Linked DNA regions of Homo sapiens: regions 1, 3 and 4 are each reported to be linked to region 2. Evidence: microRNA targets listed by miRTarBase, many of them from high-throughput screens and not tested one by one. Region 2 holds a microRNA gene; each other region holds the end of a gene's coding sequence.
The links. The annotated mature microRNA hsa-miR-935 reads CCAGUUACCGCUUCCGCUACCGC and lies in region 2 at 3,696-3,718, opposite strand. An mRNA with a match to its seed (bases 2 to 7 or 8) in the 3' UTR can be bound and repressed. Matches are read on the target gene's strand: a 7mer-m8 pairs with bases 2 to 8, a 7mer-A1 pairs with bases 2 to 7 and ends in A, and an 8mer does both.

Region 1 (7,000 bases), not on the chromosome of region 2:
ATTCTTGGCTTTAAGTTCATGAGTAATTTGTTTGTGCTGAACTGCTGTTAATGGAATGTCTACCACAGTCAAGTTCACTCTGATTCATAAAAATGAAGACTGTACTTTTAAAGACTGCACTTTTAGTTTTCACTACATACCCTAATAGATATGATCACATGGCCCACAACTTATTAACAAGTAGACAACTGGCAAAGGGGGATAATTTTTCTTAACGCAAAAGCATTATTCAGGAATAATCTGTAACAGCAGCTGTGTACTGAGATGAACAGGCAAGACACTCTAAAATCTAAAAGAATTGCTGGACTGTATGAAAAAAATGTTGGAGCATATGAAAAAAAAAAGTTGTGCCTGTCTACACAATTTGATCTTTAATGACTACTATAAGGATCAGTAGAGCTTTTCCACAAAAGGGTCAGGAAGTAAATATTTCAGGCTATGCGGGCCACATATAGTTGCTTTTTTTTTTTTTTTTTTTTTTTACATAACCCTTTAAAAAAGGGTAAAAAATCCATTTGTCCAACCCCTGGCATATTGTAATACCATGAGTACCTGATTTTTTTTTAAATGGACAGTCTATGCTTTCATGAGGCATGCATATTGAGCACCCCGTGTGGGATGGTCCCAGCTAGGGGAGAAAGTATGTGTGTCTGTGCTCACCCGGCAGCATAACTACACAACTGCCCCTCTGAAGGATGGAGCAAAGGACATCTCCTGAGCACTGAGCATCAAGCACTGAGGCTCTGGGAAAAGGAAGATCAGACAGAGAGGAGGTAAGTGGAAGGAACTGAGCAGCTTCGGTTCAATCCCAAGGCAAAAGCCTGAGCAAGGACACACTCCACAAAGTGCTCAGGGTGGTTCCCCGGGCCCCAGGACGGCATGACACAGCACAGCACAGCAAAGCCCTGAGAGCTCTGAGTTTCTGCCTGAGTCTAATTATCTATAAAGGAAAGAGACTGGATCCTCAAGTCTTCCAATCCATCCATTGTAGAATACAGGACTCTGTTCTGATGTTTCAAAGGATGAATTATATTGAAGGCTGCCTCAAAAGACTTCCCAGTCTGGGCAACACAGTGAGACCTCATTTCTGCTAAAACTGGAAAAAAAAAAAAAATTAACTGGGTGTGGTGGCATGCACCTGTAGTCCCAGCTACTCAGGAGGCTGAGGTGTGAAAATCTCTTTGAGCCTGCAGTGGGCGTCATAAAAATGAAGATGACTATACTTTCAAAAAACTGTACTTTTAAACTACATACCCTAATAGATAAGACCATATGCCCATTGCACTCCAGCCTGGGGCGACAGAGTGAGACCCTGTCTGGGGGCTGGGCAGGGGGAGGGGAAGGCCCTCCCACAATTCTGCTCGTTTTAAATACAATAATCTTTTTATTTTTCCCCTGAAAAGGATTTGAGAGCAAGCATGGGGAATAGCACTTACTGCTAGGATATGAAGACCGCCTTACACAGATCAATTTTATACTTAAAAAAAATTCCAGTATTTCAGTGGATATCAAGTCACAATAAGACATCAAAGTAATACTAAGAATTCAAAATGATAATTGTTTCAAAACAACTAAAACGATCAGTGATTTGGGGCCACTGACAAAAATTTTTCACTGACAGGACATTGAATCACATTAAAAAAAAACCAGCATAGAAACTCATACTTGGGTTGGTGCGGTGGCTCACTTGTAATCCCAGCACTTTGGGAGGCTGAGGTGGGAGCACTGCTTGAGGCCAGGAGTTTCAGATCAGCCTCGGCAACATAGCGTAACCTCGTCTCTATTAAAAAAAAAAAAAAAAAAAAAAAATATATATATATATATATATATCCTTATCCTTGAGTTTTTGGAAAAGGAGGAAGACTATAATAGCTTTTCAGTCATACTCTGGTTATAACTCCAATTTTTTAAATCAATATTAAAGCACTTCAAAAGCCTCTATGTTTTATTTGTTGGCTTACCTTTAATAAAATTATTTTGAAAGTATGTGGCTGAAAAGGTATCAGTACCAAAATATTATATAAGAATAAACAAAGCTTTGGGATTGTGATCAGACTTTGTTTCTACTCTGTGAAAAAACATTTTCCATATCTAAATGTGACATTCAGAGGACTAAAAGTCCAACTAAAGTAGTCTCAACTAATTTTACCAGAAACAAAATCTTGGCTTACTTTAATAAACAAGAAATAAAGCCAGAGTCAGTTCTGTGTGAGTGAAATGAGAGGCCCAGGCCACATAATTTTAGAACTCTGAATCCCTATTTGCTCATGGGTTCCGGCTCGATACGGTAAGGTGGCCTCATTTTGGCTACTGTGATGGTTTTTTTTAAGAAGATGGAATGCTAAGGTTGCTCAAGTTTAAGGGGATAGTAGTGCATATCGATATAACATGTCTCCTTTGAAAAGAAAAAATGGAGACAAGGAAAATGAGAAGTAAAGAAGAACAGAGAGAAAAGGGCAGAAGAGAGAAGGAAAATCAAGAATATTTGTTCCTGAAAAGGATGACTTTCTCAAGCAGGGATCAGCAGATGTTTTCTGAAGGTCCAGATAGTATCTTAGGCTGTAAGGGCCACACGGGTCTCTGCCGCAGCTACTCAACTCTGCTCTTGCAGTGCGAAAGCAGCCGCAGACAGAACTTAAGAAAATGGGTGTGGCTATATTCCAAACACATTTTATTTACACAAACAAGCGACCAGCCCACAGTTGGCAGACCCTTGACAGATCATCTGGAATCCGAAAGGCAGTCTGCACAGAACTTGCTGATAGTAACACTACAGCATCTCCAGCTTGTATCACATAGCATGCTATATTTTCCTACTTGGCTCTTAGGTCCACTAATCAACAGGAATGCTGCCCATAAATGTGAATGACAGCTCCCACCCTCATGACCGAACCCATTACAAAGCAGGAAAAGAGGCCAAACCTCAATTCAAAGTAATTATCTTGAAGTGATGCCTTTTACTGATGACCTATCTGAACAGTGAGAAATTCACCTGCATAGTATGTGATGCATAGAGATCCCATTAGAAAGCACCACATATGTAAAGGGATGACTAAGGGCACCTCTTCTATCCATACGATTTTAGGAACAATACAGCAGGAGACTCACAGCCTAAGATTATCATTTTAGATAAGGCTGCACAGAAGTCTTTAACAAGGAATCCAAGGGGCTAGTGACTGGTGACTTACAGAAACTGACAGCATTCCTATGAAGGAAGCCTCAGGAGCAGAATAAAGGTTCACAACCTTCCTGCTGTGCTGCAAGATTGTTACCTGTCTGAGGAAGTGCTAGGGGTGAGGCTCAGGACCCCAAGTGAGGGAGTGGTCTCCTGCATGTCCATCTATAGCAGGGAGTCTCGTAGGATAGAAGATGGGTGTCCTGAAGAGGGCCCTCCTCTACGGGAGCTATGGCAGAGCTTCAGTGATTGCTTCCCAGGCATCTTCCAGCTTCTCCAGAAACTCAGAGAATACCAGTGTCCTTTGGTCATCAACTTCAGCCCCAAGACTGGAACAGTCATTTCACTGAGTGTACACCCAGGAGAATTCCTTTCTGATTTGGATCGGAATGTGGGATGGACTGCTTTTGCATCTGGTGTGGTAAGCCATTCTTGAAGATGGCTCTGGGAAGAAGGTTTTTGCAAGGTAGGGAAAACAATAGCAGACTTGAGTCAATACCACACCTGAGCTTGGAGGTATCTGGGAAACTGCTTTGCCAGTACCTGCTGTAGGTATCAAAGGGCCTTGCAGGATTAGCCCTCAAGTTTTGCTGTTTTCTTTCTTCTATTAACAAAATTAACTGAATCAGCAAAAATGAGATTCAACAAATATAAAAAATTCTAAACTTTTAAGTGTCATAATTATGTAGACTCTTGGTCTATTTAAATGTCCTTATTATAAAGTATAAGTTGATTTTAAAGATGATCCATTGCATTGTTAGGTATATAAAATACATACATACACATTAACACCTTTTCTCACACACAGCCTAGAATGGGAAAGAAGGCTATTATCTTTAACTGAGCTTTTAAAAATGAAAAAGAACTTAGAAAAGGAATGGAATGAATTACAAACTTGGAACTGGAAAAGTTCCACCCACTTACTACCTTACACCTCTCCCTAACCTAATCCAAGCACCTTACAAGGTAGTCGGTATGCAGCCAACGGGGCACCTCTTCTGTACAGGAATCAGCATGCCTGACATTGGCAAACATCAGCTGTTTAAGTCACCACAAACACAATATCCAGTGACAACTATATGAAAAGACATTTTTAAAACCTTAAAACCATTTTTTAAGATTAAATGAACCTATTCAAAACACATTAATGCCTCTGTGCAACTTAATGCTGAGAAAGGGTTGCCAACATACACACTCAGCAGTTTTATTAATGTAGGTAGCTCTTGAATGGCCAAAGTCAAAGATACTAAAAAGAAAAAGACTCATCAGATAGAGAAGACATGAAAAAAAATCAGGGCTTCATAAGACAGCAAGCTTCTCTAGCTATGAAATTCAACACAATTCTAAATTTCTCACAAATCAAATACTTTTCTCCAGTCTTATCCAATCATCAGAAGTTCCCATGATATACAGCAAACCTTTAACAGAATGGGTAGAAGGCCTGTATTATCATGATTTGCATGAAAAAAGTCCATCTGGGCTTATCTAAAGAGATCTGAAACAACCTAAATGGAAAATTTTCAAATAAAAAGGACAGGGCAGCAGCTGTCCATACAAGCTGATTTTGGTGACAGAACCGGTTAAGGAAGCTGACTGAGGCTTCAACAACCAAGCCTTTTTTTGTAGAGCGGCCCAATGGAAAAGTCAAGTACACGCTGCACTATAATAATGGAGCAAGGTCACAGGCACTAGGTTGAAGCCAATGCGCCTGTCTCAGGCTTCACCTGGGAAAGGCAAACAAAGTCATTAAAACATTGTGGCTCTCACTTCTGAGACACGGAATAGAGCCTGACATGACATGGCAGGAGTGATACTACAAGCATTTAACTACTAGGATGGTGTTAATCAATCAGAATGAACGTCTACTCCAACAAGTACATTCACATTGGAGCATACAGCTGAACATCAGCTCTGGGTGTAGGGGGTGTGTGGGCTCTTCACAGATGCTGGAGCTGCTTCCTCCAACTGCAAGGCTGCTCTAACCTTTACATAACTCCATGCTGTTTTAGATCTTTCTGAGTCTGGTACCAAAGTGGTATTGGGGATGCTCACAGAGACACTGGGCTACTTTTAAACCATCTGTCCTTTGCTAATTACTCAACTCAGGGACACCCAAGCACACTGCATAGGGAAAAAATTTTACTGTAAAATTGGGATTGGGAGACATTTGTGGCTGATAACCACATGCAAATGCACCCAAACACACATGGACATACATATTCTTAAACCTTTCTATTACTGGAAATAATAGTTCGGCTTTCTTTGAATATGGAAGTACTCTGGGTAAGAAAGAAAATAAGAGTCATTTTCATCCTAATCATCAAATTACAGCTACAAGATGGAAAAAAAAAATCCTAGGCTTTTTCCTCCCGAAGTAGGATGGAAGCCTTGCAGGAGTGCTAGCAAGACCAGAAATGAAGAAGATGGTGAGAATTAGTAATACAGTTTGGGGATGCAAATGATTTTTTAGAGTTTGTAAACAAAAATTAACACTTGTGACATATCTCTTGTCCCATGGGCACATAATTTAGAATACATGCTCTCAAATGACAAAACATCAAAGGTGAGAGGAGGGACCAACAATGAACATGATCTTTTTTAAAAGGGGGTAACAGAAATAGTAATCTTTTATAATTATAAATCCTCTGCATACCATAAAATGATTTGGTTTAGCTTTCAAACATCATCTAAACAAACAAACAAGACAGAGAGGGAAGTTCACTGCTGGGGTTTGCAAAGAAGGGCATCTGTTCGTGGGCAGATGCTGCAGGGTGGCTGCTGAAAAGCTCCTTTTATGTGCATGATGGTGGTCTTCTCGGCTACAGTACAAGTGCTTGTGCATCAAGTATAAAATACAAGCCTTTAATCACATAGATCAGCTTTTTAGCTTTTGTAAATTTAAAAACAAAAAGGATAAATAAGGCACTGTACTTTTAAAAACGAAAACTGCTTGGTTCCAAGTTTAAAACCCAAGGAACAACCAGAATATAATATATAACTTCCCTTAGCCTCAGAGAAGGACTCTGCAAGTTCCCTTCTCCATCTGAGATGCATTTTCTGACATCTCAAATTACGGTGTTCTCCATTAACTGTAAATTTGAAAGGCTTGATAAGCTTATAAAAGCAGATTTAGTTAATGCAAAATAAAAGGTTACTTCTATAGAACAGTTTTACTCTTGGCTACCATCTTTCCAATCACTTTGCATCCAGCCGCCTCCGTTTGCTGTGCGAACAGTCCAGCTTTGCCTTCAGCTTTCGCTTTCTCTGAGCTGCACTGCTCTCTGGGGTTTTCGTTGAGGGTCTGGCCCGAGTCTTTCCACTACTCTGCTTCCTATTCGTGGCTTTCTGAGGCCTTGAAGAGGATTCACCGGCCCCCTTCTGTTTTGCAGGTTTCGTCAGTGTTTCCGAGGCAATAGACTGGGAAGGCCTTTTGTTTGTATTCTCTTTTTCTTTCCTGGAGGGAGGGCAGCTCTTCCCAGCGGACTTTTTAGGGATCTTCACTTTATTCTCTTTCAAAGACGTCTTTTTGGGGGGTTGGCTGCTTCTGTCCCTTGCAGCTGGCCTCTTGGCAGCAGGGGTTTTGGTGGCTCCATCAGCATGCTTTTCTTTGCTGGCTTTCACCGTAGGCCCCTTGTTCTTACTATCTGGAGGGCTGCTGCCTTCTGTTCTCTTGCGTTTACTCTGAACTTCTGCTTTAGGCAAGATTTCAGACACCTGCTTCCCCTTCCTTCCCTTCATTCCTTCAGTACTCTTGGGCTTAACAGGAAACCCATCTGCATCCACTTGCAGGGCAAGCTTGGGGGACATCAGAGGGTTGATGCATAC
Region 2 (7,332 bases):
TATCACCTTCCTGTCTTTGACTTTTTCTCTGTCTGTGACTCTACTAGTTTGGTCTCTCCTGCTCTCCCCCTCCCTCCCCATCTTGCTCTTCCTCCTGCCTACCCTCAACCTCATTCTTTCTCTCTCTCTCTCTCTCTCTCTCGTTCTGTTTGGCCTTCAGACTCTAGAATCCATTCTCCCCTAACCAGTTCCCTCTCCCTCTTCCAGCAAATATTTGCTGTCTCTCAATTTTTTTTTTTTTTTTGAGACAGAGTCTCGCTCTTTCGCCCAGGCTGGAGCGCAGTGGTGCCATCACGGGTCACTGCAGCCTCACCCTCCCAGGCCCAAGCGAGATCCTTTCACCTCAGCCTCCTGAGTAGCCGGGACTACAGGCGTGCACCACCACACCCGGCTAATTTTTGTATTTTTGGTAGAGACAAGATTTCAATATGTTGGCTGGTCTGGAACTCCTGAGCTCAATCTGCCTGCCTCAGTCTCCCAAAGTGCTGGGATTAGGAGCCACAGCACCCGGCCAGATTTGTCTCTTTTAACACCCGCTCCGGCATCCCTCTTCTCTCCACGTATCCGTCTCTCTCACTCAGCGCTTCTCCGTCTCACTGATTTGTATTCCTTTTCCTACATTTCCCAGCATCTCTTCCTGAAACCGCCTTGGCAGAATTCTTCCTAGGGACCTTCAGTCTCTCTCTTCCTGGTCCTTCCACACAGGCCTCGGAGAGAAATTCTGAACACCCAGCTCTGATCTGTACCCTTCCGTCAAGAGAAGGGCACGCAGAGCCCCTGGCAGCATGGCACCACCGCTGCCACGTCCTCCTCAAGCTGCGTCTGTGCCTGTTTTCCCGCCAGACTGGGAGCCCCTTGAGAGCAGGGCAAGATCAAAATCACCTCTCCACTCCCAGCACCGCCCAGCACAAGGCTTCGGGGGAGGCCTCAGGAAACACTTGCTGAGCAAATATGGAAGGGAAGCCTACTGGGCGCTGTCCCCTCTGCCTTCTCAGTGAACTTCAAACCCATCCCCTCCAATCACCGCACAGCCCTTGCCCCCGCGCAGCTGTCATCCTCTCTCACCATCCTTAGAAGAGCCTCAGTCCCTCTGCCTGGAACTCAGGCACCTTTTTCTCTTTTTTTCTGAGACAGGATCTCAGTCTGTTGCTCAGGCTGGAGTGTAGTGCCGCGATCCTAGCTCACTGCAGCCTCGAACTCTTGGAGTCAAATGGTCCTCCTCCCTCAGCCTCCTGAGTAGCTGTGTCCACAGGTGTGCTCCACCACGCCCGGCTAATTTTTTTTAATGTTTTGTAGAGACAGGGTTTCGCCATGTTATCCAGGCTGGTCTCAAACTCCTGGGCTCAAGTGATACTCCAGCCTCAGCCTCCCAAAGCGCTGGGATTACAGGCATGAGCCACCGCGCCCGGCCACCCTGGTACCTTTACACTCTAGCTTGTGGCTACTTTCCCGGCCTCATCTCCCAGCCCCACCTTGTACATCAGCATCCCAGAACTGTTAGCACTGACCCCAATACATCATGCTCGTTCACTTCCTCCCGTTTTCACCCAAGTTGTTCTTTGGCCCCACAAGCCTTTCTCATGCCTTTCATCAACCAGAAGATGCCCACTCATTTCTTCAAGACCCAGAATGGGCATCATATTCTCCAGGAAGCCTACCCCAAGTGCTGCTCACTCCTGGCAGTTGGTCACTCTGTCCACCGTGTGCCACGGTACCCACGGTGGTCCGGGTTCCAGCACCGATTGCCCTGCCTGGATGGCGGTGTTTGATGACAATAAACTGCTTGAGAGCAGGGCTAGAGTCTGTTTCACCCCTGGGGATCTGGATCCTAACACACTTCCTGGTACCTTAGCAGATGGCCAAAAATGGCAATGGGTGAGTGGCTGAATGAACGAGTGACAGACACATGAGTCTCTAAGCCCCACGGCTTTCTCCTGCACACCAGACACCATGACTATGCTTCAGCATCTGTGTAATTACGTGCTTCCTCCCACAAGAGTGTGAGCTCCAAGGGCCCGTGCCCATGTTTGATGCTGTATTTCAGCACATCTCTGCCTCCTACTCTTGCCTCCGAGTTCCTGTCTTCCCTTTGTACACCATTCACGTTAGCGTCCTGCTTAAACCCGTTCCACGGCCCTCACCACTCCTAGAATAAAATCTGAACTCCTGACCTACGAGCCCCTGCACAATCTGGCCCTGTCTGTGTCTCCGGCCTCACCTTGATCCCCGCTCACCTGCCTCACTACCCTTCAGCCCTCGCTGCAAGCTCCTTCCTGCCCCGGGGCCTTTGCACGTGCTGCTCTGCCTGCCACACTCCTGCCCCAGCTCCGCCCTGCTGGCTTCTTCTCATCCTTTCACTGTCCACTGAAATCTCTTCCTCACAACTGGGTTAGGCTCCCCTGATGGAGCATTTCATAGCATCTCGTTTCTCCTATAGCCTAACTGTAATTTATTGTGTATGTACATGATCGATTAATGCCTGTCTCATGCACAAGATGTTTACTCTATGAGACGTCGGGGCCCCTGGCTGTTTTCCTGCCTCCTGCACGCTGAGCACGGAGCACAATGCCTAGCTTTTTAAGGCGCACAAATAAATTGCCGGTAATGAATGAATGAATGAGAAGGCCCTTTCTGTGCCTCGTTCGTGTCCCCTGCTCCAATGCCTTCTTATGTACCAGTGCCTGGTACACAGTAGGTGCTTAATAAGCCCTTGTGGAATAATGAATGAAAAAAATGAATGAATGCCCGCGTCCAACCCTTCTTTCTGCCTTTCTGCATCCCTTCGCTGTGTCTCTTTATATAGGGCATATATATAGTTTGTGGGTGTAACTATGTATTCGTGTATTATGGGCCCCTCTCCAGGAGTTGGGCTGGGCTGGGAGTCCCTCCCTCCCCTCCCCCCGCCCCGCCCCCCATGCACACAGCAAAACATGAAAAAGAAAACATCTCGAAACTGCAAAAAACACCATGGCCCTCCCCCCTCCCCATAGATCCCCCAAAAAAATAAAACACGACGCTCCCTCACAGCGGCCCCCTCCCTCCCCTGCCCCCTCCCTCGGGGTCCCTGCTTCGGAGGGGGAGGGGGGCGGGGAGGGTGGGCGTGGGGCGGGCCCAGCAGTCTCCAGCGCGCTCACGGGGGAAAGCGGGGGCGCCCCCGACCCCGGCAGCCTCGATGCACGCGCGCCCGCGCACGCGCCCCGGACACGCCCCTCGGCTCCCCCGCCGCGCCCCTACACAGGCGTGGTTTTCCTGTTGAGCGTGTTGGTGTTGGAGGCGGCGGCCTCCTTGGCCAGGGTCCCGGGGGCGGGCGCAGAGGGCGCGGGTGGCGCGGGCGCGGGCGGGGCGGGCGGCCCGGTGACCGTGACCGTGACGCCGCCGCCCGCCTCCTTGGGGAAGGCGTTGTGCAGCGTGAGGAAGCCGGACGCCCCCCCGCGGTCCCGCTCGGCACCCGCCCCGCCGCCGCCTCCGCCGCCGCCCCCGGCGCCCCCGGCCGCGCCGCCGAACGCCCCCACGGCGCCGCCGCCGCCGCCGCCGGCCCCCGCCAGCCCCGCGGCCACGCTGCCCTTGGAGGGGTCGCGGCTGAGCGTGTACATGGAGATGTCCGTGGAGGCAAAGCCCGGGCCCCCGGGGCCGCCGGGAGACGCGTCCCGCGACGGCGACGGCTCGCTGGAGCGGGAGCTAGAGCGGGAGCGGCGGCGGTAGCGGAAGCGGTAACTGGGCAGACGGAGGATGGCCGAGGGGCCGCTCCCGCCACTGCCGCCCGCGCCCCCGCCGGCCTTGAGCAGGTCCGAGCGAGACTGGCAGTGCGCCTCGCGGCTGCGCTCGATGTAGATGTTGACGGCCAGCACGCCTATCACCTCGGCCAGGATGAACGACAGCCCGCCGAAGTAGAAGGACCAGCCGTACGAGTAGTGGTTTTTCTTCTCCTCGTCCCGCTTCGGGCCCGGCTCGCCCGCGTTGGCGGAGATGTACACGATCACGCCGATGATGTTGCTCAGGCCTGGGCGGGGACGGTCAGACGGGAGCCTCGAGGCCACCCCCGGCCCCGCCCCCGCCCCCGGCCCCGACCCCTGCCCGCCTGCGCCAGCGGGCCCAGGCGCCACCCCCAGGCGGTCTAGGCCCCACCCCGAGTGGTCTAGACCCCCGTCCTGGATCTGGCTGACCCAAGTCCTGCCAGAAGTGAACACAACTCCCCGCCCGATGCTCTAGGCGCTTCCCTGCTGGTCTAAGCTCCAACCCAGAGGGCTCCGGCCCACTCTTAGCTGGCCCAGGCCTCACCTCTGCTGGTCTAATCCAACCCCGGCTGGTCGAAACTCCATCCCCCAGGTGGTGTAGGGCCGCCAATGGTCCAGACTGCATCATGCGTGGTCCTGGCCCAGGCAGGCTCAAGCACCCCCTCAGATGGTCTAAATTCCACCCCCAGGTGGTCCAGGCCCTGCCCTGAATGGTCCAGACACGGCCCTGGATGGTCCAGGTCCTGCCCCCAGATAGCCCACGGCCCACCTCTGCCGGTCTAACCCAGCCCTGGCTGGTCTAAACTCTGCCCCAGGTGGTCTAGGACCCACCCCCAGATGGTCTGGGCTGCCCCCACATGGCATAAACCCCACTCCTCTAGCTAAGGTCCCAACTCTGCTGGTCTAAACCCCACCCTGGCTGGTGGTAACTCCACCCCAAGCGGTCCAGGCCCCACCCCTAGGTGGCCTAAGCCCCACTCCCAGCGAGTCCAGGCCCTGCCCTGACTGGTCTAAAACCCACCTTTGATGAGATGAGTTTCCAGGCCCTGCCCTAGTTAGTCTACCTCCACCCTTAACGTTATAAACCTGGGTTTTTCCCAAGCCTCATCCCTCTGCTCCTTTGAACTCTGTTAATGATGTCATCCTGCTGTGATCAGGCCCTGCCTTTCACTTATCTAATCTCTCTTCATATAATTCCTGCCGGAGTATCCATTCTAGGCCCTCCCCTACTGGTCAAAAATTTGCCTTTAATAAAGCAGGCCCCGCCTTCTACTCTAGGCCCCACCTCCAGCTTACCAAACCCCGCCCCGTGCGGATCTTGGCCAGGGTCCTTGCCGGTCTCGGGTCCTTGCCGGTCTCAGGTCCAGCTACTCCGGCCTTTCAGATCCTCCAAGCCCCACCCCTTGCAGATCTAGACCCATCCCCAAAGCACACCCTGCTCTTCAAATATGCAAAGCCCTCCCTCTTCTCTGTATTCTACTCCTCCAAAAAAGCTCTGCCCCTGGAATTTCCCAATGCTACTCATACGGGGTAGAAAGGGGGCCTTACCCCTTAATTGCGTGCCTCTTAAGTGTTCCAGTCCTAGCTCTCTGCTCGTCTAGGCCCTAGCTCTTGAGACGGCCAATCCCAGGTACTGACTGGCTTTGGTCGGCCTCTTGCTTCAATCAGCCAGGTTGATTCTCTGTGCCCTTAAGGACATAACCCCTCCCCCTTTGGCTTTTCCAGGCATCGCCCCGTCTTTTCTAGCCTCTCCTTCTCCAAATGGCCACGGGCAAGGGCCGATTCAGTCTCCCTTACCCAGCCCCTTTAGTTTCCACTTCCCGGCCCTGGACGGTTTCCCAGGACCAGCCCCCTCTTGGATCCACCAAAGTCTCCAAAGGCCCGCCCCTTAAAGCAGGCTCCTCATCGGCGCTCAGATCACTTTCTACCTCTCCTGGGCCCGCCCTCCAAGACCCAGCCCCGCCTCTCTATCCTCAAGAGCCCAATTGTGTCTCAAGGTCCCACCCCCTCCCCAGCTCCTCCCCTTCCGTCTCCAGGACGGCGGGCTTGGGATCCTAAGCGCCCGGCGTCTTACGCGCCAGACACCTGCCTGTGTCGGTTTACTCCTCCGAAGGCGACGCGAGAACTACACCCACCTTACCCAGCGGGTGGCGATGGAGCTTGGGGACCGCCTAGGAAGGCTCCGGGCCCCCGGGGGTGCTCGGGGCAAGGTGGCTTTGCAGACACACGAACGCGCACTTGCACTCACGCGCGCGCGCGCACACACACACACACACACACACACACACGTGCGCGCCCAGGTGGGCCGCCCCGGTCGCCCCCTCCCTCTGCCTCTCACCTGCTGCCACGAACAGGATCCCTGCGCCCAGAATGATGTTCCTCTTGGACTTGTAGACGCGGGAGGCCGCCACGCACACACCCCCGAGCAGCAGCAGGATGGCGCTAAGGATGGGGAAGATGCTGGAGGCCCGGACAACTCCTGCGGGGGAGGAAGGAAAGGAAAAGGAGGGAGAGCGAGGGCGGTCAGACGCGGCCGCCTGCGCCCCCTTCCCGGCCCCCCATCTCGCGGCGCCTCCCGACAGTTCTGTGATTCTCTCTCTCCGGCTGTGTTCTGGTTTATTTTACTGTTGCCTCATTCTCTCTCCTGTTTTTAAAATTTCTCTATTTCTCGGTCTGATTTTCTCTCCCTCTTTTTCTTTGTCCTTTTCTTTTTTCTTCGGACTATTTTTCTCTCTCTTGGAATATCTTTCCCCCTCTTTATTTATCGAAATCACTCTCCCTGTTTTTCTCCCAACTTCTCCATGGATCCTCTCCCTTTCTCTTTCTCGTCCCTTCCTTCCTCTCGTCTGCGAATTTCTTTCTCCATATCCCGCAAATCACTTACTACCTCTCTCCACACCCCCTCCCATTTTCTGCCTCGCTTCATCTATCTGGGTTTCTCTCTCTCTCTACATTCCTTCCTTCCTCCTCCTCCTCCCGTTTCTGCCAGGCTGAATCTACTTCTGAGTTTCTCTTCCCTTCTTCTCCTCACGCCCCCACCCCACCCAGTTTTATTGCTGGCTTCATCTATCTTTCTGGCTCTGTCTCCCCTCTCTCCTCTTATCTGCTTGGCCTCGTATGTCTTCATAGGTCCCCCCCCACCCCGCTTTTTCTGCCTGGCCTCATCTGTCTTCCTAAGTCTCTCTCCCACTTTTTCTCCCTGGCCTCATCTGTCTTCCTAGCCACCCCCACCCACAACTTTTTCTGTCTGGCTTCACCTATCTTCCTAGGTCTCTCCCCCCTCTTTTTTTTTCTGCCTGGCCTCATCTGTCTTCCTAGGTCTTTCCCCACCCCACCCCACCCCACCCCTTTTTTCGCCTGGCCTCCTCTATCTTCCTGGGTCTCTCTCTCCCCTCCTTTTCTGCCTGGTTTCTTCAATCTTCCAGGTTTCTCTTCTCTTCACTCCCTTCCTCTCCCTTCCTCCTTCCCTCCCTCCCTACCCCCTTTAGGCCTGACTTCGTCTATCTCTCTTTCTCCCTCTTTTCCTCCCTCCCTTCTTCCCCTTATCTCTCTCTCCCCGCCCCCACTCCCCGCCCCGCCCTCCTCTTTTTCTCTGCAG
Region 3 (7,336 bases), not on the chromosome of region 2:
GCCATGGCAGCAAAGTGAGTAGAATATTTTGGGCTTGTGGGGGTGGGTGGGATGGGGGTGGGGCTGACAGGAACCATAGAGCCTCACACAAGCAGGCAGGTGTCTTGGGATGAGCCCCTGGGCTCTGCTGGGGTTGTAAACAGAAAGGGCCTCCTGGTCCAGGGGGTGGAGGGGCATCTTGAAGAGGAGAGCTGATGTTTGGTGTGGTTGTGTCTGGGGAGAGGTTCGTGGGGGCCTGGAGGGGAGCCTGCTATTGTAGGTAGGGGGCCAGAAGTCCAGACCCTCGCAGGCTGAGTGAGCGGCTGGCTGGACTGAGCCTGGTGCATATGGGTCGAGTGGGATGGTGCATGCTTGCTCTGGCAAGGGCTGCGATTGGGGTGAGAGACTGCAGAGGTGGGACTGGGCAGTGGGGAGACAGCAGCTGTGGCCTTGAGGTTGAATGTGCCGTTCGGTGGTGGCGGCGGCTGGGCGGAGGGACATCAGAGCTGTTCTTGTGTCTGGTACCTTCCCCTCAGCCCTTCCAGGGGCATTGGTGACAAAGGGCTTACTCTGTTAAGCCCAGAGACCTCGAGGCTGACCCCAGGGTAGTCCTGCCCACCCCTCCACTCCCCATCACCAGCCCCGCCCACCCGCCCCCCACCACCGTACCGCATGCCAAGCAAGGAGCAGGCGCCCCTCGCCCCCATCCCAAGGCAGCAGCCGCAGACAGCCGCGGTGTGCCCCCGCGCGTGTGACCTTGGGCTTCTTTACCACCCCAGATACGACGACTACCACCACGAGCGCTGGCACAGGGTCCATCCCGCCATGGCAACAGCAGCAGGCGGCTGCCGCAGCTTCTCCAGGAGCCCCTCAGATGCAAGGCAACCCCACTATGGTGCCCCTGCCCCCCGGGGTCCAGCCGCCTCTGCCGCCTGGGGCCCCTCCCCCTCCGCCGCCTCCACCGCCTGGTTCCGCCGGCATGATGTATGCCCCGCCCCCTCCTCCTCCGCCTCCCATGGACCCTTCTAACTTTGTCACCATGATGGGCATGGGGGTGGCGGGCATGCCGCCCTTCGGGATGCCTCCAGCTCCCCCACCGCCTCCACCACAGAACTAGACTTGTTTTTTAAGAAAATATATATTATATATAGAGAGAATTGGTCTCGTTTAAACACGCCGAACCTCACCATATGGAGCCAGACATTGGGACGCACGCATGTGATTGTGTGTGCACGCATGTGTGTGTGTGCACGCACTGGGCTGGGCCAAGCGACTGAGGATTCGCTTGGGAACGGGCAGGTGGTAGTAGGGGCGCCAGCTTGGGCTCTCCTGGCGCCCCGTAGCATCGAGTGTCTTCTTTGTCTTCTTTCTCTCCTCACCCAACTCCCTTTGCCTCTCCCCAAACCGGGCCGCCAGGATCCCTCCCCGCGGCGGCGATGGCCCGAGCCATGAGAGTGAGGACTTTCCGCGCCCATTGGTGACCCTTCCAGGCAGACAGCCTCAGCAACGCCCCTGGTGGACAGGATGGTTCGGCAAAGCAGCCTGAGTTATTTTTGTGGACGGAATCGGAACACGCTGGCTCCATATCGTGAAATTTTTATTAATTTTTTTCTTTTTCCTTTGTTACTTCTTTATCTTTTCCTTTCTTCAGACTCCGTCCAAGGAGATGCTCTCCCCGGTCTTCTGCTGCAATTTAGATTCCTTTCCCTTCTCTCCAGTTCTCCTTCCCTTACCAAGGAGAGGGGAGCAAATGGTTTTGGGCAAGGGCTTTGGCCATTCATGTCAAGCTGGTTGTGGGTTTTTCAAGGTGCCATAGCCACCCCCAAAGATGTTTGTTTAAAGCGTGGGGTTTTTTAATCTCTGCCACCCTTGTCAAGGGAGTCTTGTAAAGTTGCCGAGGGTAGGTTCATCTCCAGGTTTCGGGATTCCCATCCGTCCTGGCGATCCTGCCAGCAGTGGGTGGGCAGCCTGAGCTCCCTCGGGCTCGCCTGCCAGCCTGGAGTTCTTCCTGTGCTCCTTGATCACCTGAGCTGCCTCAGATTCCATTTGGTCCTCTCCTTCCTGGAAGGCTTCCTTTTATGTTTTGTTTTAATCCCAAATGTCTGAATGTTTTGCAGTGTGTAGGGGTTTGAGCCCCTTGTTCATTCTCCTTCCTTTTTCCTCCCGCTTCCCTCTCCATGAAGTGATTCTGTTGACAATAATGTATACTGCGCGTTCTCTTCACTGGTTTATCTGCAGAAATTTCTCTGGGCTTTTTTCGGTGTTAGATTCAACACTGCGCTAAAGCGGGGATGTTCCATTGAATAAAAGAGCAGTGTGGTTTTCTGGGTCTGCTTCTTTATTTTCTTTTTAATGCCTGCCCCGCCCGGTTTTTCTTTTCACATAAACTTCCTCTACCACCAGCAGCAGCAGCAGCACCAAAGGTGCCTTAACTTTCGTTCAGCACCAGGTCCGGGGGGGTGAGACTGTGGGTGGTTAATTAGGGAAGCCCACCACCTGCCTCCTGTGTGTGGCTTTGGTGGTGGGAGCTCAGTGTGTGGGTGGCTCCACAGTCTCCCCTTTGGTGACTAGTTAACATCGCTGAGAACCAATTTTGCCCCTCCTTGTTCACTGCTCATTTTTCTAGTCTCTGTCCTTTGAAGGCTTTTTCCTGGGGCTCAGACGTCCACGTTTGATGAGCTCCAGTGGTGATTTGTGCCTGGAAGCTGCCACCTAAGGCCCTGGGCCTGGGGAGGCATCAACACTAAAGGTCAAGCCAACTAATCCTGCCTGTCAGGCACAGAGCAGCTAAAATTAAAACCGCCAAGTGGCTTTTTTCCTTCTCTGCTGGTGACTTGCAGCCTGCCAGCGCTGTAGGCTTTGGCGGGGGTCGGGGGGACAGGATAAAGTGCCCCATCTTGTGCTTTGCAAGCACTTTTCAAAGGGTCTTCTGCTTTTTTTCCATGTCTTGGGCGGCGAGTGGGTAGTTACTGTTAGGGTTCCAGAAAAATCCATGTGGAGTCTCCACCAGGTAGTGAGGTCCTCTCCTGGGCAGAGGTGCCTTAGAGCTGCCCTGGTTCCACCTGCCTCTCCTTCCTTCAGGGCGGCTGAGGGACAGTAGGCTCCCCCAGCATCTGGCTGCTGGGGCCAGCAACTGGCCTGGGCTGCTTTCCAGCTGTGAGCTAGGGCTGGCTACTGCTGTTTACTGGGGTGTCTGGTCCCCCGTCCAGGAGGCCTGTGCTTTGCTATGGGTCTGCCAGGCTTGAGGAGCCCTCAGAAGCAAGGCAGGCTCAGTGCGTTTCCCCAGCCAAGCCCTAAACTTCGGCTCACCAAAAGGAGGACATCTTTTTTGCCTTTGTCCTTAAGTGGCAGAATGGGGGCAGGGCCTGGGGCCTGGCTACCCTCTTTGACCTTGGCTTCACCTCATTGCTTCTCCCACAAGCTTGGTTTCCCTGGTGGGCTCATTGGGTGGTTAATTAGCTCTTTGAAGCTCTGGAAGCGGCAAAGTGGCGCTATGTGGGTTTTAGAAATAAAATCAATAAATGACTTAACCACAGCTTAGCTATCTCCTCCGCTTCTCTCCCCCAGGCCAGCTCCATTCCTGTGCTCCCTCCCTTTCTGCTCCCTGCCGTCAGCTTTTGTTAAGGTTTTGGAGAGGAAGTGGCTGACTAAGGCATCAGTCTCCAAGGTGCTAGAGGCCCTGAAATGGAAGAGACAGCAGGAAGGCTTGGCCCTCTGAACCGTGGCAAGCACTTGCCTCTGGCAGAATCAGAGAGAGAAAGGCCTGCCCACCTGTCTTAAGACACCTGGGGTGGGAAAGCAAGCCATTTACTCCATCACATTGTGACAGGGCTGTGCTTGCCCCACCCCCTCTCCTCACGTTCATTTCTGCTGCTGTAGCAGCACTGTCCCCGTCCCTCAAGGCCTGGCAAGGCCTGGCAAGAGGAATGCCAGTGGGGAAAGGTCAGCCTCAGGGCTCTGTTACTGAGGTTCAGCCAAGGGCTCTGGAGAAACCCAGGATTGGTCCAAGGAAGGAGGCCGGGTTTCTAGTTAGAAACTTAGACATAAATAACCTCGAGTGAGTTCAGGTTGTAAAAGTGCTTCAGGGTTCATTAAACCTGCATACACAACACCAAGGAGGGGCGGAGGAAGCAGGGAAACAGATGAGATCGTGCTGCCCAGGTGTGATCATGCTGGGCTGGGGCATGCAGTGTCACCCCGGGACAAAGCCTGGAAACAGTGGGGAGTGATGGCATGACAAAGACGGAAAGAAGCCACAGAAAAGGTAGTTGGAGAAAGTTAAAAATTTCCCAGTAAAAATGTTCCTGAGAGCAAGCGCCCTGGGTGCAAGAGGGGAGAGTAGCTGGGAAAGGATGGAATGAACTTGGCCTTCCCTGCCTGTAAGATGTGGATGGTCTATGGGGATCGGGTCCTCAGTGGCAGGAACATAAAGTCTTGCAGGAAATAGGGGTCAATGCAAAGAAGGTGTGTGTGGCCAAAGCAGGCTGCCACGATTGGGCTGTGAGGTGACGGCATGGTTAACAAGCTACTGCCTGCCTGGCAGTGGACTGCCAAGAAGTCTCAGCTCTACTCACAGCAACCCTCCAAGGGACAAGTGCGGGCTGTGAAGAACCTTGGATGCCAGGCCAAGCTGGAGTCCAAGCTGTGCTTAGTGGAGGATGGGGATGAGGCCCAGGAGCTGAGGCTGGGGTGCAAACTGTGAAAGGGGAAGAGACCAGACAGCTGCCAGCATTGTTTTTTTGTTTGTTTTTGAGACAGAGTCTCGCTGTGTCGCCCAGGCTGGTGTGCAGTGGCGTGATCTCGGCTCACTGCAACCTCTGCCTCCCGGGCTCAAGTGATTCTCCTGCCTCAGCCTCCCGAGTAGCTAGGATTACAGGCATGTGCCACCATGCTTGGCTAATATTTGTATTTTTAGTAGAGACGGGGTTTCGCCATGTTGATCAGGCTGGTCTCGAACTCCTGACCTCAGGTGATCCACCCACCTCGGCCTCAAAGTGCTAGGATTACAGGCGTGAGCCACCGCGCCCGGCCAGCATTGTTTTTTAATGGTTTATGAAACACTTCTTAAGAGAAATTGGAAATTAACAGAAAAATGTAAGGAAAAGTTGTTTGCATCCCCGTGTCTGTGGAGGTGTATTTTGGTGTTTTTTTCCCGATCTTTTTTCTCTACTTGGAAATGTGGCAGGCACCACAGAAGACAGTGTGCCCGTGCCTTTTGGGGGCAGGGGTAGAGCAGGGCTTGGGAGCCTGGAGACCTCTGTAGGACTTGAAGTTTGGCCCACATACTAAGCCGGTGATTCCAGGGCTGGGTCTGCCATGGCTCAGAAAGTGATCGGAGGCCGGGCGCTGTGGCTCATGCCTGTAATCCCAGCATTTTGGGAGGCCAAGGTGGGCGGATCACCTCAGGTCAGGAGTTCCAGACCAGCCTGGTCCAACATGGTGAAACCCCGTCTCTACTAAAAATACAAAACTTAGCTGGGCATGGTGGTGGGTGCCTGTAATCCCAGCTACTCAGGAGGCTGAGGCAGAATTGCTTGAGCCCAGGAGGCGGAGGTTGCAGTGAGCTGAGATCATGCCATTGCACTCTAGCCTGGGCGACAAGAATGAAACTCTACCTCAAAAAAAAAAAAAAAAAAGTTCTCAGAAACAGCTTGGCTTTCTCCGAACCAGGCTCTCAATAGTATCCTGCAGCTGTCCAGGCTTTTGACCTGCTTCCTTGGCCTTCAGAACAGAACACCCAGCTCTTCCCCTCCACCGGCCCACCACCCGGGAGGCCCAAACAGCCTTTGAACTAGCACAAGGTCCTGGTTCCTTTCTCTTAAAGAACAGCAGGATCCGAAGCCTGCCCTCACAAGATGAGGAGGCAGCAGCTGAGAGGCAGGGATTTTTTTTTTTCTCATTGGAGAGTCTAAATTTGGTGAAGGAATCCAAAGCTCAGAAAGGTAAAGCAACCAGCTTGAGGTCACACAGCAAGTCAGTGCTGGGGCCAGAACACAGCAGTGAATGGGAGGATAGCCAAAGCCTCCAGGGAAGGGCTCAAAGCTGTGGGGCTATGCACACAAATGGGGTGAGGTCCTCGAGGTACAGATTAGGCACCCATTTTATAGGCCAGGTCACAGAGCTGGTTTACAAAATCCTGCTCAGAGTGTGGCCCCAGGTGGCAGGAAGAAGTGAAAGAAGGCCTCTAATCACTTCCTAAGCAGTGGAATCACAGGGAGAACTTACTGTCATTAAACCAGTATGATGATGGAGTGGGGAATGCCTCAGTTTCTCCCACCGCCGAGGGCCTATAGGACTACAGTTCCCAGGGCCCCGTGCTGCAGGCTAGCGGCCTCCCGCCAATGCTGGCCAGTAACCTGAGCATCCCTCTCCAAAAGGTCACTTCAGGGCTCCTTGAGGGACAGCAACAGGGGGAGCCTAGAGCTGCTCAGCTTCGGTGGGGGTGGAGTGAGGGCTGTGGCCCTGCCTCACACAACCTCCCTCACACCACCCCTGCAATGCAGGGTCGTGGGCCCCTTTCTCAAAGACATCCAGTGGCCTCTGCTAGTTGCACCTCTTCCGTCAGGGGACACTGACTTGGCTCCTGCACCACAGCCTGCAGGGGGTCCTGGTTCCTTTTGCCACAACACATGGCCTCCCATCCTGGTTCAGCCACTGACAGACAGCTCCCCAATCCAGCACTCTGCCTGCTCCTTCTTGTATCCAACCCTCCAAAAGGCAGGGACAAGGGACAGAAGACCATGTGCAAGGCCTGGAGGAAGTGGGTCAGCACAGGCCTGTGAACAAGCCAGGCCAGTCTTGGCGGCCCAAGTGGAGCTCACCTCTCCCTCCCCTCTCCTCTCCTCCCCTTGCCCTCAAAATAGCTCCCTGAGCTGCCAGGCCAAGACCCTCCCATTGCAGGGGAGGCGGGGCGTGCTGCCCAGAGCCAGGCTTTAAATCCCCTTGAGGCTGGGGAGCTCCACTCCTTGGCTGGAGGCAGTGCTGAGGCCGCCGTCCCCTCTACCATCAGTCCAGTCCGGCCCGCCCTCCTGCAGCCATGTCCCGGCCCCTGTCAGACCAAGAGAAAAGAAAGCAAATCAGTGTGCGTGGCCTGGCCGGCGTGGAGAACGTGACTGAGCTGAAAAAGAACTTCAACCGGCACCTGCATTTCACACTCGTAAAGGACCGCAATGTGGCCACCCCACGAGACTACTACTTTGCTCTGGCCCATACCGTGCGCGACCACCTCGTGGGGCGCTGGATCCGCACGCAGCAGCACTACTATGAGAAGGACCCCAAGGTGCTGCTGGGGAGCCTGGGGTGGGGGTATGGGCTGAAGGCGCTGCCAGGGAGCTGGCGATCTTGACTTAAGTGGCTG
Region 4 (7,336 bases), not on the chromosome of region 2:
AACCTTCTGGACCTGTGAGCCGTCATGCCCGCTCTCCCTGTTCCTGCCAGCAGCCCCGAGAGCCGTCCACCTTCTCCCTGCCCAGCGTCTCTGTGGGTTTCCCTGTTCTGGACATTCCAGAGACGGCATCGCAGGACCGGTGCCCTCTGTGTCTGGCGGGTTCACTGGGCATCAGGTTCTCAAGGCTCATCTGAGCGTCGGGGCCTCGCTCCTCTTTGCGGCTGCGTAATGCTCATGGGTGAGCACACCTGGTCTGTTCATCTGGGCTGTCCCCACCTCTGGGCTGCTGCAAACGTTCCGGTGCAAGCACACCCAGGTCCCCGTTTCCCGCTCTCCCGGGTCTACATGCAGATGTGGAGTTGCGGGGTCACGTGGTTCCCGTTTCTAGCTCTCCCAGGTCTACGTGCAGACGTGGAGTTGCGGGGTCACGTGGTCCCCGTTTCTAGCTCTCCCGGGTCTCCGTGCAGACGTGGAGTTGCGGGGTCACGTGGTCGCCGTTTCTAGCTCTCCCGGGTCTACGTGCAGACGTGGAGTTGCGGGGTCATGTGGTCATCCGTCTACACTGAACATTTCGAGGAACCCCCAGACAGTCTCCACGTGGCCACATCATTCTGATGCATGGCAGACGAGCCCGAAAGAGGAGCTTAGTCCCAGAGGGTTCTTGGCTTTGCCCAGGAAAGAATTCAAGGTCGAGCCAGAGGTGGAAGGAAACAGCTTTACTTCAGAGGTGGGGTTACAGCTGTGGCTGCTCCCGCAGGGCAGGGCTTCCACAGACAGCAGCCCGGGGCAGCTCTGCAGTCTCACTTATAGCCACAGTTTTTTTTTTTAAAGACAGAATATTACTCTATTGCCCAGGCTGGAGTGCAGTGGTACGGTCTCAGCTCACTGCAACATCTGCCTCCCGGGTTCAAGCGATTCTTCTGCCTCAGCCTCCCGAGTAGCTGGGACTACAGGTGCCTGCCACGCCAGGCTAATTTTTGTATTTTTGGCACAGACGGGGTTTCACTATGTTGGCCAGGCTGGTCTCAAACTCCTGACTTCAGGTGATCCGCCTGCCTTGGCCTCCCAAAGTGCTGGGATTACAGGTGTGAGCCACTGTACCCGGCCAGAAATGTCAAATTTTGATGAAGTCCAATTTATTTTCTGTGTTGTTGCCGGTGCTGTTGTTGTCATATCCAAGAAAACACTGCCAAATCCAATGTCCTTAAGATTTTCCCAGGTTTTATTCTGAGTCTTACAGTTTTAGCTCTTACATTTAGGTGTTTCATCCTATGTTTTTTGGGTTAATTTTTGTGTATGCTGTTAGGTAAGGGGCCAGCTTCATTCATTATTTTGCATGTGGAGATAAAGCTTTCCCAGTACCATTTGCTGAAAAGGCTGTCCTCTTCCCATTGAATGGTCTCAGAGCCTTTGTCGGAAGGTACCAGGCCACGTGTGGGACAATTTCTTGGGTCATTCTCATCGGAAGGTACCTGGTTGTTCTCGTTGGAAGGTGCCTGGTTGTTCTTGTCGGAAGACACCTGGTTGTCCTCGTTGGAAGGTACCTGGCTGCGTGTGGGACGATTTCTTGGGTCGTTGTTGTCAGAAGGTACCTGGTTGCATGTGTGGAATGATTTCTCGGGTTGTTCTCATCGGAAGGTACCTGGTTGTTCTCATCGGAAGGTACTGGTTGTTCTCGTTGGAAGGTATGTGGCCGTGTGTGGGATGATTTCTCGGGTTGTTCTCATTGGAAGGTACGTGGCTGCATGTGGGACAATTTCTCGGGTCATTTTCGTCGGAAGGTACCTGGTTGTTCTTGTCGGAAGGTACCTGGTCGTTCTCGTTGGACGGTACCTGGCCGCGTGGGGGATGATTTCTGTGGTTGTTGTTGTCAGAAGGTACCTGGTTGCATGTGTGGAATGATTTCTCGGGTTGTTCTTGTCGGAAGGTACCTAGTTCTCGTCGGAAGGTATGTGGCCGTGTGTGGGATGATTTCTCGGGTTGTTGTCATTGGAAGGTACGTGGCTGCGTGTGGGACGATTTCTCGGGCTGTTCTCGTCAGAGGTACCTGGCCGCATGCGTGGGACGATTTCTCAGGTTGTTCTCATTGGAAGGTACCTGGCCACGTGTGTGGGACGATTTATTGGGTTGTTCTCGTCGGATGGTACTTGGCCACATGTGGGACGATTTCTCTGGCCGTTCTCGTCAGAAGGTACCTAGCCGTGTGTAGGACGATTTCTCGGGTTCTTGTCGGACGGTACCTGGCCGCATGTGGGATGATTTCTCGGGTTGTTCTCATCGGACAGTACCTGGCCGTGTGTGTGGGACGATTTCTCGTGTTGTTCTCATTGGGCGGTACCTGGCCGCATGTGGGACGATTTCTCGGGTGGTTACTGTGCCCCGTTTATCTCTAGGTCTCCATGCTGCTGTGATACTGTTTTGACGAGGGAGCTTTCTTTTCTGCCACTGTGGGCCAGCTGCTGCCGTCTGTGGTATTCTTGTGTGTTGCTGATCTGAAGCTCCAAAGCTGCCATTCTCCCAAACCTTCCTGCTCAGATGAGGACCTGGGCAGTCTGAGACCTCCAAGCTGCAGTGAGAATGGCTGAGGGCCTGACCCAGCCAGGGAGGCTGCTCTGGGGACTCCAGGGTGCCTCTCCCTTCCCCCAGGCCCACAGTTGACCCAGCAGACCCACACTGAGGGCCTGGTGCGGGACTGGGGCAGCTTAGTGTCAGGGCGCAGAGCAGGCCCTGGAGAGCCAGGGGGTTGCCGTGTGGGCGCTGGCACTGGTTGCTAGTGTAAAGGCCCCACGGCCCTGACCACACAGGGACCCCAGACGTTTGGGGGAGATGGGCTCAGTGTGGTGAGGCCTTGGGACTATCTGCCAAAGACAGATGAGGTGAGGGGAACCCAGCCTTGGAAGGGTCAGGTGTGACAGACTCTGGGTCTGCAGAGGGTGCAGGCTCCACTCCAGCCGAGGCTGTCACAACCCGACCTCAGGTCACCTGTCCGCCCCAGGTGAGTGGACGTCTCTGGGAACCTGGATCCAGAGACTGGACCCCCACCATTAGGGCTCCTCTGCCTGCCAGCTGAGGGGGTCTCCCTGAGCAGGGCTGGACACTCACGGGTCAGAGCCAAGGGCTCCATGGAGTGGGCCCTCGAGGCCCCCAGCTGGGTCCAGGGGCCCCCCTATTTTTGTGACCTTGGTGGGGTACCCAGAGGTGGTAGCAGACCTGCCTTCCACAGTGACAGGCCCCCGAGGCTGGCCGAGATGGGGAGGGCAGATCACACCATGACTCCCACCCCGAGCACCCCTTCAGATGCCCAGGCCTCCGCCCCCAGGGGACTTCCTGACCACAGGCATCGGCCTGACACGTGTCGGGGCCACTGGCCCCATTGCCCCACACCGGCAGGTGGGACCCTCCGTCACACAGAACACAGGCAGCCGGGGGCTGGGCGTCTCGCACAGACTCTGTGGAGAGTTCAGACGTGAGGGAAGAAGCTGACATGCCCGATGGGAGGGCTGAGGCCCGTGATTCCGTTTATATGAAGGGTCCCGAACAGGGACCCACAGAGGCATGAGATGGATTCCCTGGGGCTAGAGGCTCTGTCTGGAAGATGGAAATGGGCTGGATGGAGGGGAGGTGGATGCACGGCCTCGGGAGCGCACTCCACACCACAAACTGTTCGCTTAATGACGGCCCTGGTCCACTTCATGCTGTGTGACTTGACCCCACATGCCCTGTGACCCCACCCCCAGGTCCCCTGGGAAGTCACAGCTGCCATCCCCAACGGAGGATGAGGGTGTCTGCTCCAGGGCTCTTGCAGGCCCTTCCCGTGGTCCCAGGACAGTGCTGCGGAGTCTCTGGGCTGTGGGTCCCATGAACGGGGTGCCCAGTCACTACTGCTGTGGGCTCCTGCCCTGCCCCCCTTGACCAGGACCTGCAGCCCCACTACGGGGTCCCCGGGAGACCAGTGGTGCACAGCTGCCCTGGGACAAGAGGAGCCTGGAGCGGGGTGAAGGAGCCCGGGAGGAGGGGCTGTGGGATTCGGGACCCACTACGGGGAGGACAGCCGCACGGGAGGGTTCCGGGCAGGGGGCATGGAGGGCTGTTGGCTCCTCAGGTCTCCCCCTTGCAGAGGCTGGGCAGGGGCACCCCGTGGCACCAGCCTTTCCCAGGCGATGGGTCCCTCGGGTTCCCACAACTGCCGCTGCCTGAGATGTCCGCCCCTGAGCTGTGCCACAGGGCTGGGCCCCACCAACAGCAGAGTCCCTGGGACAGCCCCCCGGGAAGGGCCGCCCAGGCCCCTGTGGCCGACAGCTCCGCGTGGTCGCTCCGGCAGACTTGCTGGCTCCTGGTGCGTCCCTCTGAGGCCCTGTCTGTCCCTCCACAGACACAGGGCGCCCTGTTTCCCCGGGAGCTGGAACACGGGCCCTCTGTTGGCACCTGGGCTGGCTGTCCCCCCCGGGCAGGCCGAGGGGGGGCTCCACACAGACCCACACTGTGCCTACCGCAGCCGCCCTCCTCGGCCTGAACCACCGTGTTGTCCCCACTGGGGCCCCCCACAGTGGCTCAGCCGTGGGCATCATGGCTCCAGGTGCCGTGGATGGAGGCAGGGGGAAGGGGTGGGTGGGGGAACCGCCCCCCCAGGCTGGGGGAGAGGGGAGGGCCTCTGTCCTATGGTGGGGCCCACTTCTGACTTCTCCCAGGACCCAGCCTCACAGCGTCCTGGGTGGGGGACGTTGCCCCAGAGCTTTGCCTCCTTCCGGCAGGGCTGGCACCCCTGCTCATTCCCATTTACTCCAAGTATTGCCGCAGCAGACACTGGAAGGGTCGCCAGGCAAAGCACCACCCATTCACCTCTCCATCAAGCTCCCGCTCGGTCACCCGCTGCCCCAGCATCAGAGTGTGGGCTGGGGGCACGGCCACCGCCAAGGGGAGGGAGGTACAAGAACTTCTTCATTTAAACAGTGTGTTTTCGAGTAAGCTGGTAAGTGGTATAATAGGAATAGTAGAAGAATATGCCATAGCTATGGCTCAAGAATAGGAATAAGAAAAATGTGCAGTAGACGCTGTTTGTCCGACGATGATGAAAGTGTGCACGGCCGGCTGTCCTCCGATTGAGGGGCCTTGTCAAGGCCTCAGAGGCAGCGAGGTCACAGCCTGGTGGAGGGTCTGGGTGTGCGCTGTGTCCATCTGCACCTCACAGACACCAGTCATGGGGGGATGAAACCGGGCCAAGAACACATGTGTGCACAGGCTGTGTGTGCCTGCATGTGTGGGATGCGTGTAGGCTGTGGCGGGGGTGGAGATGAGGGATAGGACAGAAAATGGCCCATCCAACCCCACATCCTGGCCGGGCGTGTCCAGGTCCCTGTGGGGCGAGGGTTTGGCTGCCCCAGACGTGACAGGGACTTGGCTCTGAGGGTCAGGACCTGGCTGGGAACACACCATTGAAGAGGGAACAGAAACCAGGCCCTGGGACGCTAGAGACCCCAAGAGCTACCTGGCTGGGTCTATGGTCAGGGCTGTAGTGGAGGAAGGTGTCAGGATGGCCATTGTCTCAACTCCTGTGGGCGGCACAGCCCCAGGCTGGGCCTCTGGGAGGAGGGTGGGATGGATGGGAGATCAGAGCCCCTGGCGCCTGGGACAAGGGTTGGCCTGGATGTGGGGCCCCAGGTGGGCAGGGCCTGGGAGCCGCCACAGTATGTGACAACAGACCCCACCCTGGACCCCCGTGCTGGGGGCTGGGTCCCACCGCTCTCCTCTCCACGTCTCTCTTGGCGATGCCCAGCTTGGGCTGGGCGCAGGGAAGGGCAAACGTTGCTGAGCCGCCGAGGGGCTGGGTCTTCGCCTTTATTTCTGGTGCACGTCTAGAGGGGCCCGGGCAGAGGCCACCCACGGTCCCTGAAGTAGGGCCTCAGCTCCTCCAGGCTGAGCGGAGGGAAGTAGGCTCCGATCCTCTTCCGCACCCACCACTTGCCCTCGGCGGCGTGCCTGCCCCCAGGACGGCTGAACTTGTACCTGTAGTGCTCTCCTCGGACCCACCTGCAAGGGGGCACATGTCAGCCCAGGGCCTGCTGGGACTCCCGGCCCCCGACCCGGCTCCTCAGCCTGCTGCTGAGCTGCAGCTGCTCACAGGGTCCCCCACGGACAGAGGGGCTGCATGAGGAGCCCCCACCCTGAGCACAGGTAGACCCCCAGCAGACCCCGGGCAGGGCAACTGTTCCAGTCGGCACCCTCAGCAGTGAACAGCGCAGCAAGGGGGAAGGGCGGACGGGGGGCAGCTCCGGGAGGGGAGACCCAGCAGGGCCCACTTGGCAGAGGGACCGGCCCGGGGAAGGCCAGGAGCTTCACGGGTGGCACTGAGCAAGCCTGAGACCGTTCACAAGGCCCCAGTTTGAGCCCCAAGTGTCCCCCGCCTGGGAAGGTGGGGAGAGGAACCTACTGCTCATGGTGTGGCGTCTCCACCATCAGGCCAGTCCTGGCGCAAGGTGCCTGGGGGTTTCGGTCCACGGGGCAGTCCGAGGCTGTGAGGGAGCCAGGCCGGGACCTGTTTCCTGAGGGCGGAGCCTCTGCTTCCCAGGGCTTCAGGCCCTTCCCTGCCTGAGACGTGCAGATGCTGGCTGGCTGCTCTCCTCTGTCATGCCCGAGTGGGATGAAGGCCCCCACCCCCATCTCCCCTGGAGCAGGGTAGCGGGCAGGTCTCTCTGCTGAGCCCTGTATAAGGTCCCGCCTGACCCCTGGTGACCAGGCCTGGTTTAGGCCATACTGGGTCTTGGTCCCTGGCTGGCAAGCCCTCACTGGACTCTCGGAGGACTGGGCATTTTCTCCTGGGGGTGGGACGAAGCCCCCTCATGTCCAGGGTTGCTCGGCTGCCCCGGAGGAGGAGGCGCCAGGAGGAATTGTCACCGTCACAAGCTCCCGGCCCTCCAGGCCCCTTCGCAGTTGTGCAGCAGGAGCGGAAGCTTCTCAGCCCACAGGGCGGCTGCTGCCTGGCTGGGATCCATGGCAGAGCTGGGCCCCAGCTGCCCGGTGGGTGTGATGGTGCAGCCATAACAGGACCCTCTCATGGCCCCTGGAATGAGCCCAGGCAGGTGCCAGAGGCTTCACACTGCACCAGGGCCCGGTAGCGACTGTCTGGGCTGCTGTCATTATTTGGGGCTTCTGGTGACCTGCACACAGCTGTGCTCTGGGGGCTGGGGGTGGAGACCTTGGGCCATGCCCCTTAGGCTGGCAGGGTGAGGGCCTCTGGGTCCACCCGGCTCCTCCTGGCTTTGAGTCTCTTTGGGTCTGGGTGTGTGATGGATGATGATTCTTCTCTCCCCAAGTCTGAATTACGCCAGGAAAACCGGGA

Region 1: miRTarBase lists LCOR as a target of hsa-miR-935. The part of its 3' UTR that is shown has no 7-base or 8-base seed match.
Region 3: miRTarBase lists SF1 as a target of hsa-miR-935. The part of its 3' UTR that is shown has no 7-base or 8-base seed match.
Region 4: miRTarBase lists LMF1 as a target of hsa-miR-935. The part of its 3' UTR that is shown has no 7-base or 8-base seed match.

The regions. Positions count from the first base shown.
Region 1 is chr10:96,984,505-96,991,504 of GRCh38, reverse strand. It overlaps LCOR (ligand dependent nuclear receptor corepressor), which reads right to left. Exons shown (of 8, transcript NM_001346516.2): 8 at 1-7,000. The coding sequence ends at 6,371. Among named protein-coding and RNA genes, the nearest start is that of SLIT1-AS1, 110 kb to the left of the region's middle. RefSeq lists enhancers at 6,564-6,693, 6,260-6,759, 6,760-7,000.
Region 2 is chr19:53,978,748-53,986,079 of GRCh38, reverse strand. It overlaps MIR935 (microRNA 935), which reads right to left and starts at 3,773; the gene lies at 3,683-3,773. It overlaps CACNG8 (calcium voltage-gated channel auxiliary subunit gamma 8), which reads right to left. Exons shown (of 4, transcript NM_031895.6): 3 at 6,073-6,213; 4 at 1-4,000. The coding sequence ends at 3,231. RefSeq lists an enhancer at 5,565-6,097.
Region 3 is chr11:64,759,578-64,766,913 of GRCh38, reverse strand. SF1 (splicing factor 1) reads left to right here. Exons shown (of 13, transcript NM_004630.4): 12 at 1-14; 13 at 759-2,308. The coding sequence ends at 1,096. PYGM (glycogen phosphorylase, muscle associated) reads left to right here and starts at 6,940. Exons shown (of 20, transcript NM_005609.4): 1 at 6,940-7,258. The coding sequence starts at 7,016. RefSeq lists enhancers at 1-304, 305-1,177, 1,178-2,052, 2,977-3,026, 3,077-3,176 and 6 more.
Region 4 is chr16:848,680-856,015 of GRCh38, forward strand. It overlaps LMF1 (lipase maturation factor 1), which reads right to left. Exons shown (of 11, transcript NM_022773.4): 11 at 4,955-6,027. The coding sequence ends at 5,853. Among named protein-coding and RNA genes, the nearest start is that of GNG13, 52 kb to the left of the region's middle.